3 linked regions of the Homo sapiens genome follow. The protein of the gene in region 2 binds, or shares a complex with, the protein of the main gene of each other region. Each region holds a gene or a part of one and is shown on either strand. Other genes may lie near its edges.

Region 1 (7,023 bases), on a different chromosome or scaffold from region 2:
GAAAAGAAAAATTCAAGTCAACTTTACACATCATAAAAAAACCAGAATAACATAAAAACACACAACTGCCTTTCATTACAAACCATGCTAAGTAAGTTCATAGGTTTCTTTAAATAATACCCATGGGTACAGAGGAAAAGCAAAGAAAGGAAGGATAAGGATGGGTGCGTAGGAAGACAACCTTCCAATTACAAGGCAGAGTAGCTCTGACCTTCTAGGAACAGGTGAGCCCCTAAGAACGTCCCAAGGGATGGAAAGCAGGTTCTCCTAACCATCTCAAAGGCACCCCTCTTAAGGTGATTGGCCAAACAGGACACGTTCACCAACACCTCTCAAGAGAAAGACAGTCTGGTGGACTTCAGTATTCCCTGATGCATCCTAGTCAAGTCCTATGGTGAATAATTTTGTGGTTGGGGAAGGGTTTCAACAGCATCCTTGTCCAAAGGTATCTTTATGGGCCACTGGAAGAAACTGGCCTCCTAGATAGGTCTATTACCTTTAAAAGGGTTTTTCTTCAGCTTTAACAGATACAATAGATTTGGAATGCAAATGAAAAAATGACAAACCTACAAAAAGAATCAAAACAGTATACAACACTGTCCTCTATCCACAAAACAAATGGATCTTTAAGTGCAACCAAAAGAGATGACAAAAGCCTTACATACAGGGTTTTATATATAAAAAAGGAGACACTTTATTCTAAAATCACCACTTAGAAATATAAACATCTTGCACAGAGTAGGGATTTTATTCACTTTAAAAACATGCCAAAAAAAATGGGAGATATTTCTGACTTGAGACAATGCTATACTCTTTTTAAAGCATGATATTAAAAAGTATTCGGAAAATTAGGCTACTTACATAAGAGGAATAAATTTAGCTCTTGCCAAAAAGCTTCCAATATAATTTCCAGCAGCCTGCCTGATGATGGCAGGATTACTTGGGTCCTGCAATTTTTTCCAGAGATGTTCCAAAAATGCCTCTGCGAATCCCTATAAAAAGAGAGGGCGTCGGTGTGATCTTTTTTAATGCCTAAGATAATCTGGCTATCAAAATCCCAAGATTTTTACTTCACCAATGTAGGGAAAAGTTCTACTATCTCATAACTATCTCATGGGCTTCATTTTTAAAACACATTGAGAGAATATCATTAAAAACAAAAGGCACCTCGGGTGTTAAATAATCCAGTGGATCCCAAACCTAGCTAAGCATCACAATCAACCCGGGGCCAGGCACAGTGGCTCACGCCTGTAATCCCAGCACTTTGGGAGGCCGAGGCGGGTGGATCACCCAAGGTCAGGAGCTCGAGACCAGCCTGGCCAACATGGAGAAACCCTGTCTCTACTAAAAATACAAAAATTAGCCAGGCATGGTGGCAGGTGCCTGTAATCCCAGCTACTTGGGAGGCTGAGGCAGGAGAATCGCTTGAACCCAGGAGGCAGAGGTTGCAGTGAGCTGAGATCATGCCACTACACTCCAGCCTGGGTGACAGAGTGAGACTCCATCTCAAAAAACAAACAAACAAAAAACAACAAAAAATTCAACCTGGGAGGTACAAATTCAATAGGTTTGTGACAGGGCTTTGGAATCCACATATTACAAAAACTCTTCAAGTGATTCCAATGTCAGCCAGAACTGGTGACCAACAATAATTCACATCCCATGGAGCTCCACATGGGCACTCCTGTGAGTGCAAAGCACCTTCCGGTCTCTGGACACACTGAACTCAACCACGAACAGAAATACGGACTAACGCACAGCTGGTATTTGAGTTAATTATGCCAATCATGGAAAAAAACAGACACAGCTTCTCACCAAAGGGTGTAACTTCCAACTTCTCCTAAATAGCGCTGTTCTAAAGCTAGGCACACCCATGTGGGCAGACTGAATTCAACCTTCTTTCCCATGACCAACACTCTCCTGATCTCTAGGAAGCCACAAAATCGTTGCAGAGAAGGAAAAGCCTTCTACATTCTTTCCCCCACCAAAAAAAAAAAAAAAAGAAGAAGAAGAAGAAAAGACAAAGCCTAAAGTTTTTAAAATTCTAGATTAATAAGTTGGTTTGGGCTAGTTACAACTCAACCCTTGGAAAGAATAAAGGAAATACAGTTAATTACCCCATATGAGATTTTAATAGAGAAAGGCTTAAGGGAAGAGCACCACCTAGTGACCAAAAGGCAGGATGACATTTTCGGAGCACCTAGCTGGGCTGGCAGGCAGCAATCTGTTTTCTCTCCAAGTGTACTGAGAAGGGAACGTGGGCCAGGCACAGTTGTTCACACCTGTAATCCCAACGCTTTGCGGGGCAGGAGGCGGGCAGATCACTTGTGGTCAGGAGTTCAAGACCAGTATGGCCAACGTGGCGAAACCCCACCTCTTCTAAAAATACAAAAATTAGCCAGGCATGGTAACCTGTGGTCCCAGCTATCGAGAGGGTAAGGACTGAGAGTCCGTTGAGCCCAAGAGGTGGAGGTTGCAGCAGTGGGCAGCAGAGCGAGACTGTGTCTCAAAAAAGAAAGGAAAAGAAAACAAAAAAAGAAAGGAGAATGCGATTTTATTAAGCAGACTAGCAAGTAAGCTCAAAGAAAAGAATTATTTACTTCATGGTCTCCGTCCACCCCAGTTTTTAGGGAAAATTTTTGGGCAAAAACAAAGTAAGCTAAGATAATGTTAATCACATTCTTACTCACCAATTTGAAACTACAGAGGTAAAACATGAAAAACTGTACATGGCAGGAGGCATGGGTGGGCAACAGGAGTTTGTCAAAGATGTTTATCAGGTCGCGATATAGATCCTTTGTTTTGCCGTTATCAACCTTACCTATGGAGAAAATCTGGCATCTCAGTTTTTATAAAGACATATTTTCAAGTTTCATCTGCCATATTTTTTATAAACACAACACCATTAAAAAACAACATTATCCAGCCAAGCACAGTGGCTCCTGCCTGCAATCCCAGCACTTTGGGAGGCCAAAGTGAGAGGGAGCCCGGGAGTTCAAGGGCAGCCTGGGGAACACAGGGAAGCTCTGTCTCTACAAAAAATCAAAAAATTAGCCAGGCATGGTGGCACGCCTGTGATCCCAGCTACATGGGAGGCTGAGGCGGATGAACCGCTTGAGCCCAGGAGGTCAAGGCTGCAGTAAGCCATGTTTGTGCGACTGCATTCCAGCCTGGGTTAGAGTAAGACCGTGGCTATTTAAAAAAAAAAGAAAGACAGACATTATCCATTAAAATACCATTAAAACAAAATGCTACTTTTAGTTTACACAGATTTTCCTCTGAATATAATAATCTAACACCTGCAAGGAAGCAGGCCCTCACCTCACACACTGTGGCAAGGTCAGAAATGCAAACCCTTCTGAAGAGCAATTCTATCATTCGTGTAGCAAAAGACCTCTAATCCGATCATTTTACTGTTAGTAAACAGCTGAATATATAGGCACAAGTATGTTCATTATAACTGTTACTTATCATGGTGAAAACAGTAAAAGACAGTTAAACCCATGTGACCAACAACATTTATTATTACGACTTTTTTTTTTAGAGATGGGGTCTTGTTATGTTGCCCAGGATAGTTAGTCTTGAACTCCTGGCCTCAGTGATCCTCCCACCTTGGCCTAAGTGCTGGGATTCAATAACAATTATTTTAAAACAGGCAATGATATGAGAAAATGTTTATCTTCAGCATCCATGTAAAGGGCAGATTATGAAACACTTGTGTTTAGTGTGACACCCAAATTCACTAAAAAATACTCTCCTACATATACAGACGCTAACAGAAAAGGGAAAAAAGTCAAACTTCAAAATGCTCACAATGGTTCTCTGAAGAGTAGAAATGTGGCCATTTAAATTGTTTTTATCCTTTCCTGTAGTTTCCAAATTCTCTAATCAACATGTATTATTTTTATAACAGCAAGACCGTTAAAACAGTAATGCAGTCAACTCAGATTCCAGTTCTATTATTCTGACTCACTGAGCTCATCTTAAATCTTAGCAATGTGAATGGAAAAAAATTCTGTTTTCGCCTGGCAAAGCCTTTAAAGTTCCATGAAGTCAAGAAGCACATATAGTACTAACACTGGCACAACAATGGTGCCAGGCAAAGACCCTCTAAACTCAATACATAACGGAGCACCATATATTAGTGCACCCTACATCATTCTTCAGTGCATTCAGCAACTTGAGCGTAATTTGATCTAAAACTGGCCAAACTCCATATATAATCTTTCAATACAACAATCAGTGAAAAGACAGAAGACAAATATAACTCAGCCAGAATCCCAGTCCCATTTTCAAGCTATGTGACTGGCAAGTAACTTGACCTCTTTAAATCATCTTAAACTCATACTCAATAGATATTTTTACAGGATTTTTAGTATTACTAGAGATAATGGATGGAAAATGCCCAGCACAAAGCCAGGTACACTGCAGGTGTTCAATAAACAGTAGCTACTGTGATTTACCATCTACATAGCAGACATCCTTCATGTAGGACAAAACCAAAGACATCAGGATGTCCAGGCGCTCGGCTACAGGATGCACCATCTGGTCGAGCCGTTCAGGACCAGCCTTTGTTTCATGTTCAGTTTCTTCATCTTCATCCTTTGAAGACAAAAAGTAAATACTAACATTAAAAAATTCAATGTCAAAGTGGTTTAGTAGGAAAACTGTCATAAGTGATTATTTCCCTTAAAAGATAAAACAAAGAGGCTGGGGAAAGCGGCTCACATCTATAAGCCCAGCACTTTGGGAAGCAGAGGTGGGGGGATCACTTGAGGTCAGGAGTTTGAGACCAGCCTGGCCAACATGGTAAAACTCTGTCTCTACTAAAAATACAAGAATTAGCCAGGTATGGTGGTGCACGCCTGTAATTCCAGTTACTCAGGAGGCAGAGGCAGGAAAATAGCTTGAACTGGGAGGTGGAGGAGGCTACAGTGAGCCGAGTTCGTGTGCTCCAGCCTGGGCAACAGAGGAAGACTCTGTGCCCCACCAAAAAAAAAAAAAAAAAACTAAACTAAAACAAAGAAATGGACCACGCACAGTGGCTCACGCCTATAATTACCAACACTTTGGGAGGCCAAGGCAGGAGGATCACTTGAGCTCAGGAACTTGAGACCAGCCTGGGCAACACAGTGAGACCTGTCTCTACAAAAATAGAAAAAAAGTAGCTGGGTGCGGTGGTACACTGTAGTCCCAGCTACTCGGGGAGGCTGAGGTGGGCAGATCACTTGGGCCCAGGAGGTCGAGGCTGGAGTGGGCCAAGATCACACACTGCCACACTCCAGCCTGGGCAACAGAGTGAGACCCTGTCTCAAATTAAAAAAGAAAGAAAAGAAAGAAAGAAATGCAGACACCTTTCCAGGCAGGGGTCTCATTCAGGGATGTGAATCAGAACCACCAGTGAAATTTAAAATAAAAGCCAAGACTCACAGCACCAGCTTCTGATTCTCATTGAGAAGACCCAATGAGACCTATCCATGCAAAAATCACAGATGCCCCCTACCTCTGCTCCTGGTGCCCACCATGGCGGGTGCTTTTGGTGCCGGGCCCCCTTTTGCAGGTCGGGATATCCACCTCCCCACTGCTGTGAGTACTGGCGGCCAATAGCTCACAGCCGCCTACTTTCTCCAGAGCTGCCCTGAGCAGAAAGGAGCCAGGACCACCCTTGCACTCTTTCCAGCCCCTCCCCCTTAGAACCAATGACTGATTGACAAGGCATCAGAAAAGGACATCTCCTTGGTCTCAAGCTGGGAACAAACTCTGTAGACCAATCCATGCCCCAGAATGCCTGGTGGGAGCAGGCTGTAGCGACCTCCCAAGTGAGACCCGGCCCCCGTTTAGCTCCCCTGCCCTCTTCTGCTCCCTGACACCCTCTGTCCCAAGGGCACCTGAATCCCTGTCTCAGACTCTCCTTCCACTGAACCCAACTTCAGATACCACCCAAAAGAAGTAATGCTATAAAGTGTACAAGTGGTAAAATGCAGAAATTAAACAGGTATGCTTTTCTATTAACCACGCCCTCACAGACAGCATCTGGCTTACAAAAACAAACACTGAAAGTTACAAGAACAAAAGTGAAACATACTTCACCAAACCCAAATTCAAAGCCTTGGAAATAGACCAACTATGCTAAGTGCTAAATGACATGGCAGCAAATTACTCATATAAGGAATCGTTTTCAAGTTTGCTGAACTATTTTAATTCTTTCAATCTAAAGCCTTAACAAAGATGAGCAGCACTAGCTGTTTCCACCCTTTATGATAAACTTCATCTCCACTTTCATTAATAAACTGCTAACCATATTAAACAATCCTTCCGTGGAATCTGTCCCACCACAAGTTTGAGTTGCTGTTTCTTCAGCATCTTCAATACCCTGCCGGGATGCATTCACCTATAACAAAGGGAGAAAAAAAAAGAATAAAAGGATTTAAAAAATACAACTATGTTATTTTGGGATGGAAATTCATCTGATATACGCATGTTCAAGGTGTCCAGATTAGTGCCTTATATCACACCCCAACACAATACACAATTATGGTGCAAGCCTGTAAACTGACCTAGGTCATGAAGGAATTTAAATATAATAAACCAAGCCCCTTTTACTACATACTTATATAAAATCGACAACTATCACATGATGCTCTATGCCAGGCAGCCTCAACAAATTCAACATTTATTCTAGCTCTGATATGGTCTGGCTCTGTGTCCCCACCCAAATCACTTTTTTTTTTTTTTTTGAGGCAGAGTTTTGCTCTTGTTGCCCAGGCTGGAATACAATGGCAAGATCTCGGCTCACCGCAAACTCCGCCCCCCAGGTTCAAGAGATTCTCCTGCCTCAGCCTCCCGAGTAGCTGGGATTACAGTCATGTGCCACTGTGCCCAGCTAATTTTGTATTTTTAGTAGAGATGGGGTTACTCCATGTTAGTCAGGCTGGTCTCGAACTCCTGACCTCAGGTGATCCACCGGCCTCAGCTTCCCAAAGTGCTGGAATTACAGGCATGAGCCACCGCGCCTGGCCCCAA
Region 2 (7,952 bases):
TTACTATCTCTGACTTACACAGCAATAAAAAAATAACAAGGGACAGGCCGGGCGCAGTGGCTCACGCCTGTAATCTCAGCACTTTGGGAGGCCAAGGTGGGCGGATCACCTGAGGTTGGGAGTTCGAGACCAGCCTGACCAACGTGGAGAAACCCCATCTCTACTAAAATTACAAAATTAGCTGGGCGTGGTGGTGCATGCCTGTAATCCCAGCTACTTGGGAGGCTGAGGCAGGAGAATCGCTTGAACCCAGGAGGTGGAGGTTGCGGTGAGCCAAGATCGCGCCATTGCACTCCAGCCTGGTCAATAAGAGTGAAACTCCGTCCCAAGGAAAAAAAAAAAAAAAGTAACAAGGGACAATAACATTCTTGGCCCAAAAACGTGTGTCTTTATACCATCTTAAATAAAAATTTAAAAACAGAACATTTCCAATATGCATTAAAATACATAAATCTGAAAATATTGGTATACCATCTAAAATTACTCCCTGTAGACTGGTAATTTAAGTACCACACTTTGGTTAACGCATTCCAGGCACTCTGGGGGTTTTATATAAGCTGGTGCTTGGATGCTGGCAACCTGGGGAAATACTGAGGCCAAGTGGAAATTGTGTAGCTAGGATCCCGCTTTGTCACCAGCCTGGGCTGGGGTTATTGAATGCCAGCGCTCTGCTTCAAGGCACATGCCAGAAGGCTGGAGGGTGAGGAGGGAGATGAACTGGGAAATGGGGCAAAGAAAAAGGGCCAAGGGCAGATTCCTCATACTCTGGCCGTTAGCCCAAGTCTTGGACTCCTGACCTCACCACAGACGAAATAGATGTAAAACAAGCCAATTCGTTTCCAAGTGGGAAGGGTGCCAGCCATAGTTTTTGCTGCCCAAGGAATCAATAAATACTCATTCTTATGATTCATGTTCATCCTGTTTTATTCCAAAGCACTTTACCGAAAAGCCCCTTGGCCCAGCCAAAAAGTTCAGGGCCAGGAGCCAGGACACCTGGACTCCAGATCTGCATGTGGAAGATTTGGAACGTTATTGGTGGGGGGGGGTCTCAAGTTCTCTGTAATGTGGCAAGTGCCATCTGTGGAGGACTTTACAATTTTACATACATCATCTCATTTGGCCTTCTGATCCCTGGTGAGAGAAGCAAATTAAACAGGATTGCTATTCTAACTTTACAGATACGAAACTGGGACCAGGGAAGGTTAATAAGGCACTCAGATTCACACACTATTAAGAAGGTGGGGAAGTTGGGACTTTTGATTCCAAACCCTTTGCTCTTTCCTAGTCAAAACAATAAAGTCAGTTCTATGCCTCACTTTTCCTTTTTTTTTTTTTTTTTTTGACATATTATAATAGGGGGTGTGTGTGTTTGTAGAGGCAGCATCTTGCTATGTTGTCTAAGCTGATCTCGAACTCCTGGGCTTAATCACTTAAGACCTCCTGTCTTGGTCTCCCAAAGTGCTGGGATTACAGGTGTGAGCCAGTGCGCCTAGCCCACCATGCCTCACTTTTAGCGCAGTGTGATCCTACACAAATTGCCCTGTGTATATTCCAAGGGACGATCTGGGTTTGTAGGGCCAGAAACACGTGCAGTTCTGGGGTAGCGGGGAGGTGGTCGGTGGCTCTTTTAACAAAAAAATACCAAATGATGAAAACAAAATTAAGTTCAGGGCCTTGGGCAGGTCCTGCAAGTTAGGGGCCTAGAAGCTGAAATTTCATTAACATCTACTAGTGGTAAATCCGCTTCTCCTACATGCCAGTGCCCTCTGGGAAAAAAAAAAAAAAAAAACAGGACACACCAGATCTTGACAGGGCTTCCTCCCTGTTGGTGAAACCTGATAGAAGTGGGATGTGGAAGTCCTGGGAAAGCAATCTCATTTCTCCCAGGAGACAAGAGGAATTACAGCAGCAGCGAGGCAGGCCGAGTGAAGGAGAAGGCTGCGTGCCAGGGGAGAGTCGAAAGGGGCTGGGTGACCCAGCTGGCCGAGATGCGGGCAGTAGAGCGTCGGTGTGGGAGACTGGCAGCCTGAGAGCCAGGAGCAATGGCGCTGCCCCAGGAGCGGTGGCTGGAGGCTGGGCCCGTTGGAAGCAGGCTTCCTTCAGATGGTCTTCTGGCTCCCTGCGTCCTGTCCTGATAACCTTTCCTCTGAAAAGGGGAGGCAAAGACAGTCAACCACGGCCGTGGCAGTGGGAGAGTGGGTGGTGGACCCTGTCCAGGCCTTTCATCCCCGGCCTGCAGGACAGTGAACCAAGGGACGTCTTGTCGGAGGCTGCCCCGCTGCCACCCGGGGCAGCGAGAACCGGGTGCTGGGCTCCCCTCGCGGCTGCCCGCCGCCGCCGGGGGGCAGCGCCTGCGGCCTGCTTTCCTAGGGATGGCCGAGGCTTTTTGACAAGCTGATTGCGTGGCGGGGATTGGCTGGTCCGGGTGTGACGCCGGTAACAACAAAGGTGGAGTTGGAAGAAATTAGATTAAAGGAGAGGAAAAAAATTAAAGGGGGAGCTGGCATAGGACAGGAGGTAGAGACCGAGGGAGAGATGCGCCAAGCGGTGTCTCCCGGTTCCAACTCCCCCCACACCCGCCTCGACCCTAGAAGATCCCTCGCGCAAACCCACTGGGATTTTGCTCTTTCCCCTACCCCGGCCCAGTGACCGACGCCGGGGTAGCTGCTGCTTCTTGAAAAATCCCCGCAACTCCCACCCCGACACCCGTCACTACGACCCAGGGGGAGAACTTTTTGCTCGGACTCCTCGGATCCTAAACCCAGCGAAACGGGACATTGAGAAGCTTGTCCTAAAACCCGGAAGGCCCTTGCGGAGCATGGAGATCGGATAAGGCGGGGTGCTCCCCCGGTTTTCCGATGTGTTGCAAATCTAAGAGCTTCTTTCTCGCTTTTTTTTTCCCTGTAACTACCCCCCCCCCCTTTTGCTTCAGGGTTGCAAAAGCAAAGAGCAATTAAAAAAAAAAAACCGCGCACACACTCAGACACACACCAGTGGCGACAGGGGAGAGTTGGAAAGACGCAGGAGAGAAGCAGGAGGCAGGAGGCAGCGGGGATGGAGCAATGGGAGCGGGAAGCAGGCAGGTTTCCTTGCAAATCCCCCTCCGGCCTCACGCCGTCTCGCCGGCCCCGGCAGGGGAGCGAGGACCCCGGCGAACAGATGGAGGAGTGGAGCTCGCTCTAGGCAGCTGGGCTTGGCCGGAGAATGGAGGAGCCACCAAGCGACCGGCTGATTGGAAGAGAAACGCAGAGCGATGGAGGCGGGGTAGGAGGACGATTTCTCTGCGGGGACTGGCGGCGGCGTACACGCCCGGGTCGGGCGCTGCAGAGCTTGGCTGGCTTTCAACCCGCGCTCGCCGGCTCCAGCCCCGCGCGCCCCCACCCCTAGCCCTCCCGGCGGCTCCGCAGGTGAGTGCGAGCTGGGGGCAGAAATATCCAAAAGTCTCAACATGCCCGCCCTGCAAAAAGAAAAAAAAAAGACGAAAACCATTTTTCTTTAAAAAAAAAAAATTTTTTTTGTGCAACCCCTAGAGCAGTGGGAGGGAAGGGGTGAGGCTGAGCCGCCCGGAGGAGGCGGAGGGGCCAGGCGAGGCCGGGGTGGCCCGGGAGGCGGCGGCGCCGAGGCGGCTCTGACGGGCAAGCGCTCGGAGCGGCGCTGCGCTGCGCCGAGGCGGGCGGGCGGGCGGGCGGAGCGGGGCGGGCGGAGCGCGGCGCGTGGGGCTCGCCATTAGCCGTCGCTCCGCTTCGCCATCTCGGGCTTTGTCTGGCGACTCGCTGCCCCGGCGTCGGCTGCAGCGGAGCTGCGGCTCGACTGTTCGGCCCGCCGTGCTCCCAGGTGCCCCCGGCCTGCGCTCCCATCCACACGCTCGGTAAGTGAGCCCGGGAGCCGCGGATTTCGGGGGAGAGGGGTTGCTACGAGTGGCGGCGGCGCCGATCTTCATGCGCCCGGGCAGGCCTGGAGAACCATGCCGGGCTGGATTGAACCGGCTCCCACAGCGGCCCCTCCGCCGGAGCCCGTCGTTCCCTTGCCGTTTCCGGGGTGTAAAGAGCAACGGGGATTTTTTTTTTTTAATGCAGAGGTTTTAGTTTTCGGGTTTTTTTTTAAGTTTCGTATGTGCCGTTCGGCAAGGAGAGGACCGCGAGGTAGGCACCGAAGCTGGACGCCGCGATCGGCGTGCGTGCGCCCCAAACCAGCGGCCACGCTCCGGGGGATGAGGGTGGGCGCGGACCGCTCGCTCCGGGAGGCGGGAGAGAGCTGGCCTGGAAGCCCTAGTCTGAGCTGGGAGAACTTGGGGGAGAGCTCCGGAGCAGGGCTGTGGGCGCCCCCCGAGCCTCCCCGGACGCCGGGGGCACCTCCGGGCACCCTCTCCGCGGCCGCACCTCGGCCCTCCCTCGCCGGCGAAGCCTGCTAGTTCCCCCGCGGGTCTGGCGAGGTCGCTCTCGGCGCCCGCCCGCCCGCCTAGGCTCCGAGCCCCGCCGCCATCCGGGCGGCTGCGTGTCTCCCTGCCCCGGCCCCCCCCCCCTTCCCCGGCGGCGGCAGCAGCAGCAGCAGCAGCCGCCGCCGCCGCCAGCACCACCACCACCACCCCCCTCCCCTCCTTCCTTCCCTCCGCCTCGGCCGCCCGGGTCCCCCCAGCTCCCGCCCCTCCTCCCAGCTGCCCCCCGCGGAGCCCGCCCGGGCAGGCTGTGGGAGGGAGCGGAGCCGGCGAGGCGGGCGGGCTGGCGCTCGCTCCCCGGGGGTCGGTGTGCGCTCTACGGGGAAGGACGCGCTCGCTGCCCCGCTTCTCCCGCCCCCCCTCCCGCTCCTCCTCCTCCCTTCTCCCTCCTCCTCCCCGCTCCGGCGGCTGAGGCTGCGGCGGCGGCGGGGGGTGTGCGAGCTGAGGCCGGGGCCGGCGGCGGGCGGGCTGCCTGCAGGCGGAGGGCGCTGTGCTTTGTGCTTTTCGCCGCGAGGAGCAGCAGGCAGCAGCCACAGCCGCCGCCGCCGCCGCCGCCGCCACAGCAGCAGCAGCCGCCGCCCCAGCGCCGCCGCCTCGCCCGGAGGAGGAGCCGCTGCCGCCGCGGGAGGGAGCTGCGGCTGTGCCCGGCCGAGCGGGGGAGGGCGCCGCCACTCAGAGCCAGGGAGGGAGCCGCTGGAGCGGGAAGCCCGGAGGCCGCGCTGCGCCGGGTAACCGAGGCGGCTGAGGACGCGCGCTGGGGTCGGGGCCGGACGGCGGGAGCGAACCGCGGGGTGCGGTGGGCGCCCAGCGGGGACCCGAAGCGACCACCGAGCAGGCGACCGGGCGCGAGCAGACCAGGGCACTTGGGAGGACGCCGAGAGCCGGGGGAGGGGAAGGCAGGAAGCGAGGCCTGAGCCGAGCCCCGGCCGCTGGCGGAGGAGCCCGCGCTTCTCGGAGCCGGCAGGCGCAGTTCTCCCCGGCCGCCGGAGGGGGCGGCGGGGCCGGTGAGCGCTGCGCCCCCGCCTCCCGGCCGCCGTCCTCCCGCCCTCTCCTTGGCTCGGCTCCCCGGAGGCCGGGGCGGGGGCGCCGGCGGGGCTGGGCCGCAGGCTCGGGGGAGGAGGCGGCGGTTCCCGCCGCGGTCGCGCCTCTGTGCCGGGCTCCTCCGTGCGCGTCGGGGTGGCTGGGCGGTGGCGGCGCCTCTGGCCGGGGTGGGTGGCTCGGGGGCGGGGGGCAGGCTAGGCCGCTTCTCTCCGGCTGCTTGCCCGCCTGTGCGGGCGGGGACGGCGAAGGGAGCCCGGGAGGGGGGAGCGGCGGGAATCCGGATCCGGTCCCCGGGGGCGGTGCGGCCGCTCCGCTCCGGGGCTGGCGGCGGCTGCGCTGCGTCCGGGTCCCCGCCGGGTTGCGGAGGCGGGGGGAACCGGCCGGGGGGAGGCGGGAGGAGGAGACTGGGGCGCGTGCCCGCTTCCGTGGCCGCGCGCGCCCTTTACCCGCCCTTCCTCTTCCCCCGCCCTCCAGCCTGGGGCCTCCCCGGGGCGGGCGCTCCGAGGAGGAGGAGATTTTTTCTTTTTTTTTTTTTTTGGCTGGGGTTGGGAAGCGGGGCGGAGGGCGGGCGCTCGCTGCACGCGGGAGCTAGGAGCAGGCCCTCGCGTGGCCAGGGGAGGGCGCGCGCCGCGGAGCCGGGCTGCAGGGGCTGGGGGAGGGGGTCACGAGGAAGAGGAGGGGCGCACTCCCATTCCCATAGACCCCTTAAGTCTAATAAGGTCATGGCTGAGTCTCTCAGAGTGTGGACCTGCCCCCTTCTACTCTGGGCGGTTAGAAAGTCGTTAGTCGTTCACCTCTCAGCCTTCCTGAGTGGGAACTGGTATGTCTTCCAAAGGGTGAGGTGGCTTTGACCCCGGGTTGCCCGGCCAGCACGACCGAGGAGGTGGCTGGACAGCTGGAGGATGAACGGAGAAGCCGACTGCCCCACAGACCTGGAAATGGCCGCCCCCAAAGGCCAAGGTAGGGGCATCCACCCCCGGCCCTCTGAAACTTAAACCCTCTTTCCCTCGTGGCTGCGGGGCTCACTCCCTTCTTCAAGGGCTTTTTCAGTCTGCATACACTGAACTGGGGGAGAAAGTGCCTTGAGTATTTATGAATCAAGCATCTCCCACACTTGGGGTTTGGCTGAATCCAAATTATTTGGCCTGGAGTGGCTCACCTCCCCTCTCTCCCTGTCCCTCACCCTCTGTGTTAGAGGAGGCCTGCCTTCTGGGGTTCCCATTCAGCCTGAAGTGTGTCCCAGCCCAGTGTCCTGGAATGGGAGGAAGGATGAGTGTAGAGGAAGGGTCAGGAAGGGGTTGGGGAAGGCTTCTCAGGCTTTTTAGGAAGACCATGAGGCTTTTGTAGAGGCAGGTGGAGAAAAGGGCTGTTTTGGTGGTTTTAGGCCCCAAGCCATGGGATATATGTACTCAACTAGATCTCTGCCTCATTCAGCAGTGATCCAGTCTAGATGGGGATAGAGAGTAGGATGAAGCTGGACAGCTGGCCATGCTTGTGGGACATTGAGGGGAGAGGGGATTATGGGTCCACGTGGCCCATTCTGCAGAATCTCTGGCCCAGGTTACCAGATGCAAATGAAAATGGAGAGCCCTTTTGACTTCTGGCCTTGGGTGGCTATTCTCCCAGCCCATCCACAGTGGCCTAGAGCTCTCTGGGGCTGCATTTCAGTGGCTGAAAAATAACTGTTCCAGACCTGTTCTTGCTTCCCTGGGTAGTTGGGCTGACAAGACAGCTTGTAATTCTGGGGGTTCTCCCTGGAGCAGGGCCCTGAGAGTTTCTGTGCACCTGCCTACCTTGCCTCAGAGCTGCCCTGTATCCTGCTTCTGCTTCTGTTTCCTTTTTCTTATTTGCCAGAAATTCTCCCTTGATCTGCTTTAAGGGGCTAGGGGGTGGTGGGTGTCTCTAACATTGGTTTCCAGCTGTGCAGGAGAGACATCTGCATGGATTTTCCTTACTGTCCACACCCCATTCTCAGTCGTTGCACATTTAGAATATCCACTCAGAACTTGAACTTGGCAGCACATTTAGATATATTGCTTCCCTGCTTCCCTCCTTCTCTGACAAGCTACCTCGTTTCCCACAAAGCCCTGAATCACTGTACCTTCATTTCCACCCCTCTTCCCCTTACAGCAAATAGCTGCCCGTTGCAGCTTGGCACAGTATAAATGATAATAGCCTTGAAGCAAGCCAGACTTGAGTTCGAGCCTGGCTTTCTAGGTATAGCATGGTCTGGACTGGAGTCCCTGCCCTGATCCAATATGGCCACAGTTTCCTTAGGGCTGAGCCATATCTTGTCTGTGCCTTCAGATGGGAAGCAACCAGGGGCTGGGATGCCCTAGGGAGGAAGAGTTGAGCACTCAAGAACTGGGGAACAGATCGGGGGGATAGCATGAGCCAGGCATGATGGCCTCTGTTACTCTTTACCAGACCGTTGGTCCCAGGAAGACATGCTGACTTTGCTGGAATGCATGAAGAA
Region 3 (6,137 bases), on a different chromosome or scaffold from region 2:
CAATATTGGTTCTTAGACACCCTATGCTAGTGCCCGATCTCCTCTTTATTATATAAGCACTTTTAAACATGGAGGGACCTATTCTAGAATTTTGTCATGGATCAATCAGTACTAACCTTATGTGTTTATAATCTTTACAACCCACCCTTTCCCCTTCATTGAAAGGCAGGACTTTTGTCCATTTGTGGTCTGTTCACTACTCCTGCTCGCCGTGGGATGAGGGATATGGAGCTGGCACAGTGGGGAGCAGGGGGCACATCCGGAAGATGACACTATCACCTCCAAGACCCCACATCTCATGAGAGTGAGTGGGAAATCACTGAGGATGTGGAAGGAGGGGAAATGACCCCAAGGAAGTCAGAAGACCTGGGTTGTGTGCATCCCTTAGACCAAAGGTTCCAAGTGTGCACAGGCCTCAGGAAGGCAGGAGCTCCACTTGTTAAAAAAGGGTCAGGTGTTTCTGGAAATGACTCAAGAGACTATGCCCAAACCCTAAGAAAACAGAACCAATAGTGGTGACCGGGACATTTTATTCAAGAGAAGTCAAAAGCCAGGCCCAGACAGCTGAATAGCAGGGGACTCCCCAAAAGAGGAGAATGGGAAGAGGAAGACAGGAGGAAAAACACCCCTTCTGTCCCATTTCCCTTGCACTCTATCCCCTAAGGGTTAACCCCCAATTCCCCTCCTCCCCAGCCCAAACCCCATCTCCCTTTAATCACATCTGATACTGAGCAGCCCAGCAGGGAACAAAGAGACCATTTAGAGAAATGGGGCCGAGAAAGTGACCCCCGCACTCTGGGGCGGCTGCCTGGATGCCAGCACAAAGGCGGCATTTCAGAGCTGAAATTTCAGCACCCAACTTGATTAAAGGATTCCACAGGCTTGGAGGAGGGTGGATGGGAGTGTGAAGTCCACTGCTCCCTGAATTAACCCTTCTCCAGGGCAGCGGACACCCCTCCCACCAATGCAGATCCTCACCATTCACTCCCCACATCCCATCCCAGGGCCAGGCTGCACCTAGGCCTGGAGGCCCTGCCTCCTGCAGAGGTTAGGGAAGCCCAGCTCCTCCTCTTTGAAGGGGAGCTGGCAGTGGAATGGAGGTTAAGGCTGGCATATTCAGGGAGCCAGTTTACCCTCTATCCCTGTTCATGTCAATATACACCCTCCCCCTGACCCCCTCTAGGAGGGAGGAGCCAGTGTGACTGGTCTTACCTCAGGTTGGGTAAGCAGGGTGGAGAAAGGAAGAGGACCCATTAGAACCTCAGGCAGAGGAAGGGGGAACTCCAGCTCTGACTTAATGTAACACCTGGAACCCAGGAGCACCACCACCCCAGCACCATGTCCCCAAGGCCTCAGGGGATCACCAGCCCCAAATAGGAGGGAAAGGATATCTTATAGAGGCTAGGAAGAAGGCATGGGTGTGGCACACCAAAGAGGTGGGCCACAGAGGACAGCGTGTGGGCAGAGTCCTGAGGAGGAGTGGGGACAGAGCCATGGGGGCAGGGGTAGGCAGGTGCTCGGTCCTTGCTCCAGCTGCTGACTTGCCCAGCAGGGCTCTGCCTGGGGAGGGTGGGAGATCAGCACACCCCCACGCTTCCTGCTGGGGCACTGCTCCTGAAAGGGGATCCGAGCCCACGATAAGAGGCTCGAAGCAGGTCCTTAGGAAACAATGGGTGGCTTGATGAGACCTGCTCTGTGATACTCCTGAGAAGGGAGAAGCCCCTGCAGCCAGTCCCCACTGGAAAGGAAATTGGGGGTTTCCGTGGCAACCAGCTCCCTGGGCACAAAGACTTGTCTGTCTGCTTGGAAGGCAGCTGAGGTGTCTCCCCTGCAGCAGCCTTTGCTCTGGGGAACAGGGAGATGGAGGGAAGGATGTGGGGGATCCAAAGGGGCTAAGGGCCCCTGGTGCTTCTTAAGGAGCTGACAGTCACAGGGCCACTGGAATAGGTGCATGCTCCACGCAGCATGGCGGTAACGGGGAAGCAACAGGTGGTGACATTGCAGATAAGCAGAGGGGAAGGGGGTTGGAAAGTTGAATATTTTATTATTTACACATATAAAGTGAGAATGAAAATTGGGCATGGGGCAAGGGCAGGAAGATGACTCCAGCTCAGTCGGTGATGATGAGCTCGTCCACCCCCCAGTCTTCATAGCTCCCATCTGGCAGGTAACGGCGAATGATGATGGGGATCTTTCGGGCCCTGTGGCAGGGGAGAAGTCACAAGTACATGAGGGCTGGTGACCCCAGCTCTGCCGCAGAAGGAACAGATTGTGTGCAAAACACAAGCAAAGAGAAGTCTTAGGAGCAGCCTCTTGGGGCTGATGAGTGTACTTTGTAAGAAAGCAATTACAAGAAAAAGAAAGTTTTTATATCAGACAAGAGGGGGAAGAATGACAGAATATTGGTAAGGCCTCCTGCAGCAGGAACAGGGAAATTCCAACAGCCAGAAGACGTCCATGTCTCATCAGTGCCCTCCCACTTTCCCTGCCTCCTCTTCTCTCTTCCTCCTACTTCCTGGTGAGCTGTTCCTAAGGATCTGTAGGAATAAGCATCAACTTCTCCAGCCAGGCAAGTGGGAGCAAAGGGTGCAACAGAGAGCCCAACAGATGCCTCCCAGAGATTTGGAGAAGTGAACCATGATTTGAGTGACTTACTTGAGTTCCTTCATGGCAATGAGCAGAGGATCTGTCTCCCCCTCCAGCTCCACCATCACAGGGGCACACATCCTGTAGGGATAGGGACAGGTGTTAGGGAGACTACAAACCCAGGGAGAAGGGCCCAACAGGCAGTGAGGGTGGAACGGCATCCTGGTCCCCACCTAGAAACGTCATCTTCTAGGTAGGCAGGCACAGTAGGGAGTGGTGTGTAGGGGCACTGCCAGAGATCTTCCCTGGCAGAGGCCTATCACAGACTCCGGAGTCCAGCGGCCACAGCAGAATGTCCTGGTGGAAAGGGAGACATGTGCAAAGGCACACCATTCTAACTGCTCCAACCCCAGAGCCTTGCCTCAGTGCCCAGTGCACCTCATTTCAATTTCTATTTTCTCTCTCTACTTTTTGGAGACAAGGTTTCACTCCCATTGCCCAGACTGGAGTGCAATGGGGAGATCGTGGCTCACTGCAACCTCCACCTCCCAGGCTCAAGCAATTCTCCTGCTTGGGACTACAGGCATACACCACCAGCTATGCTAATTTTTTTATTTTTTGTATAGATGGGTGAAATTAACATTTCGCCATGTTGCCCAGGCTGGTCTCGAACTCCTGGGCTCAAGCAATCCGCCTGCCTCAGCCTTCCAGATTGCTGGGATGAAAGGCATGAGCCACCATGCCCGGCATCATTTCCATTCTCTATAGACACAACACCTCAGTAGAGGCCCTGCCCTTCCTGCCCAGCCCTCCCCACCCTTCACCTGAGGCCAGCAGTCAGGGGGCTCACCTGCTTACAACACTGTCATGACTCCCCTTGGCTATCAGGCCAGAGTGCAGTCTGGTCCCTGTTTGCCTTCCTAGCACAGTCCCGTGCTACTTTCCTGTATTTACTCCACATTCCAGCCATACCAAACTATTTCTGGTTCCCTAGATGCGCCATGTTGTTTCCCTTTTGTGTGCTCTTACAAGCTCTTCCTCTCCCTAAAAACCTGCGAGAGGTTCAGATGTCTCCACCCTGGAAATCGTGTGCTGACTCTTCAGTACCTGGACTCATTTTGCATATACTTTTCTTGGCACCAATCTCATTGAACTGTAACTACTTGTTTGGAAACTTTCCACATTAGACCATGAGCTCCTAGTGGCCCAGAACCACATGTGATTCACCACGGAGGCCCAGCCCCCAGCATAACACTTGGCCCACAGTGGGGACTCTACCACCAAGCAAAGGGATGCCAATTCTAGGCCCATCTCCTCTAGGAAGCCACCCCTGATGATTCCAGCTCAGGTTCACACCAACAAATCCAGAATTAACAGGAGAGCATGCTAAAAAATACAGGTTCCTGGGTCCTTCCCCAGACCCCCGGAATAGAATCTCTAGTGAAGCGGCCTGAGAGCCTGCATTTGCAAAACTGCCCAGATGATTCTGATAATCAGCTAGTCTGAGAGCTACCAGCTTACTAATTTTATTACTAAATATTTCGATTTATATTACTCCCAAAAGCCTGAAAATTTCCCAAGGGCAGAGATGAAGTATTTAACTTTCCCTATATCCTCTCTTAATAAGTATTTAAACTTTCCCAAAATATAAAGCTTTAAAGAATGTGGCAAAATACCTGATCTGCATGTGCCTGCTTTCTTTCAAAATATAAATAATTCAAGGGCATTCACTCATTCCGCACCTATTATGCACATGGAATGTGCAAGAATGTGTCCTTAAGTAATTTAATTTTTCTTGCACCATGGCTTCTACAGAGAAACACATCAACCATCCAGTTAAGAAGTAGATGTGACAAACATCATCAGCCACCAGGTGGTGCTAATGAACCAGACTGAAACCCCATCCAAAACCTACCCAACAAACAGTTGTTCTGGCCAGGTGCAGTGGCTCACGCCTCTAATCACAGCACTTTGGGAGGCTGAGACAGGTGAATCACCTGAGGTCAGGAGTTTGAGACCAGCCTGGCCAACATGGTGAAACCCCGTCTCTACTAAAAATACAAAAAATTAGCCGGCCGTGGTGGCACATGCCTGTAGTCCCAGATACTCGAGAGGCTGAGGCATGAGAATCGCTTGAACCAGGAGGTGAAGGTTGCAGTGAGCCGAGATGGCACCACTGCACTCCAGCCTAGGTGACAGAGTGAGACTCCACCTGCACCTACCAAGTGCAGAGTCCCATTATGGCTGTACAAGAGCTTACAGCAGGCAAGGAGCCACCAGATGGTGTCATAGCCCTTAAGTGGAAAGAGCACTAAAGACTGGAATGAGCTGGATCAAGCTTTGCTCCCCAAGAAAAACAGGACACTTGGCTGGGCACAGTGGCTCACGCCTGTAATCCCAGCACTTCGGGAGGCCAAGGCAGGTGAATCACCTGAGGTCACGAGTTCAAGACCAGCCCGACCAACATGGTGAAACACCGTCTCTACTAAAAATACAAAATATTAGCCAGGCATGGTGGCGTGTGCCTGTAATCCCAGCTACTCAGGAGGCTGAGGCTGGAGAATTCCTTGAACCCAGGAGGCAGAGGTTGCAATCAGCCAAGATCATGCCATTGCACTCCAGCCTGGGCAACAAGAGCAAAACTCCATCTCAAAAAAAAAAAAAAAAGAAAGAAAGAAAGAAAAGAAAAACAGGACACTTGGATTTATGAGTGGCCTGGATGCTGGATGTTGGCCTCAAAACCTTTAAGTGCTGCACACTGCCCACCAAATGAACTCTAATCTTCTGAACCTGTCACTCACAGGACCAGTGTCATCTTCTCCAGCCTTATGCCCCAAGCTGCTTATGATCCCTCATCACAAATCCACAACTGCCTGCCTCCACCTGGACCTTTCCTTGGGCTGTTTCTGGCACCTGGAGTACCCACAAAACCAACTCTCTTTACCTGTCCCCACTAGAATTCTAATCCCTTCACAAGGCTTTCCCAGTCACCTCTGCAATAACTCTCTTTGTACCTTTCATAAAGCACCACTCGCATCTGCCTTGGGTTGTGGGTACCTGTGCACAGGTCTATCTCCCCCACCAGAAAACACCTGGAGGACTGGGGATTATGTCTTTTTTTTTTTTTTTAATTATTTTTGGTAACAGAGTCTCACTCTGTCACCCAGGCTGGATTAGTGGCACGATCTTGGCTCAGTGCAACCTCCGCCTCCCAGGTTCAAGCGATTCTCTTGCCTCAGCCTCCCGAGTAGCTGGGATTATAGGCGCGCGCCACCACACCCGGCTAATTTTTGTATTTTTAGTAGAGACGGGGTTTCACCATGTTGGCCAGGCTGCTCTCGAACTCCTGACCTCAGGTGATCCGCCCACCTTGGCCTCCCACAGTGCTCGGATTCCAGGCGTGAGCCACCGCGCCCGGCTGGGACTACATCTTTAATCATCTCAGCATCCTATCAAGTGCTAATGCAGTATCTTTCTTCAGTGCTGAAAGACTGTTTAACTTGCAAATAAGCAGTCTATTTGTTTTAAAAATAACTTATGAATTCTTCTTT

What was found. The genes of interacting proteins can lie anywhere in the genome.
Region 1: UBTF (region 2) and RRN3 share a complex: the UniProt entries of both Homo sapiens proteins name them as parts of the pol I pre-initiation complex.
Region 3: UBTF (region 2) and POLR2F share a complex: the UniProt entries of both Homo sapiens proteins name them as parts of the pol I pre-initiation complex.

The regions. Positions count from the first base shown.
Region 1 is NC_000016.10:15,070,260-15,077,282, forward strand, and holds part of RRN3 (RNA polymerase I-specific transcription initiation factor RRN3), read right to left. Parts: intron 6,392-7,023; coding exon 6,299-6,391; intron 4,603-6,298; coding exon 4,464-4,602; intron 2,822-4,463; coding exon 2,691-2,821; intron 993-2,690; coding exon 862-992; intron 1-861. UniProt on the Homo sapiens protein: Required for efficient transcription initiation by RNA polymerase I (Pol I). Required for the formation of the competent pre-initiation complex (PIC).
Region 2 is NC_000017.11:44,216,656-44,224,607, reverse strand, and holds the start of UBTF (nucleolar transcription factor 1), read left to right. Parts: upstream 1-4,932; 5' UTR 4,933-5,163; intron 5,164-6,311; 5' UTR 6,312-6,378; coding exon 6,379-6,436; intron 6,437-7,903; coding exon 7,904-7,952. UniProt on the Homo sapiens protein: Recognizes the ribosomal RNA gene promoter and activates transcription mediated by RNA polymerase I (Pol I) through cooperative interactions with the transcription factor SL1/TIF-IB complex.
Region 3 is NC_000022.11:37,963,689-37,969,825, reverse strand, and holds the end of POLR2F (DNA-directed RNA polymerases I, II, and III subunit RPABC2), read right to left. Parts: intron 2,728-6,137; coding exon 2,656-2,727; intron 2,264-2,655; exon of another isoform or gene 2,202-2,263; coding exon 2,111-2,201; 3' UTR 514-2,110; downstream 1-513. UniProt on the Homo sapiens protein: DNA-dependent RNA polymerase catalyzes the transcription of DNA into RNA using the four ribonucleoside triphosphates as substrates.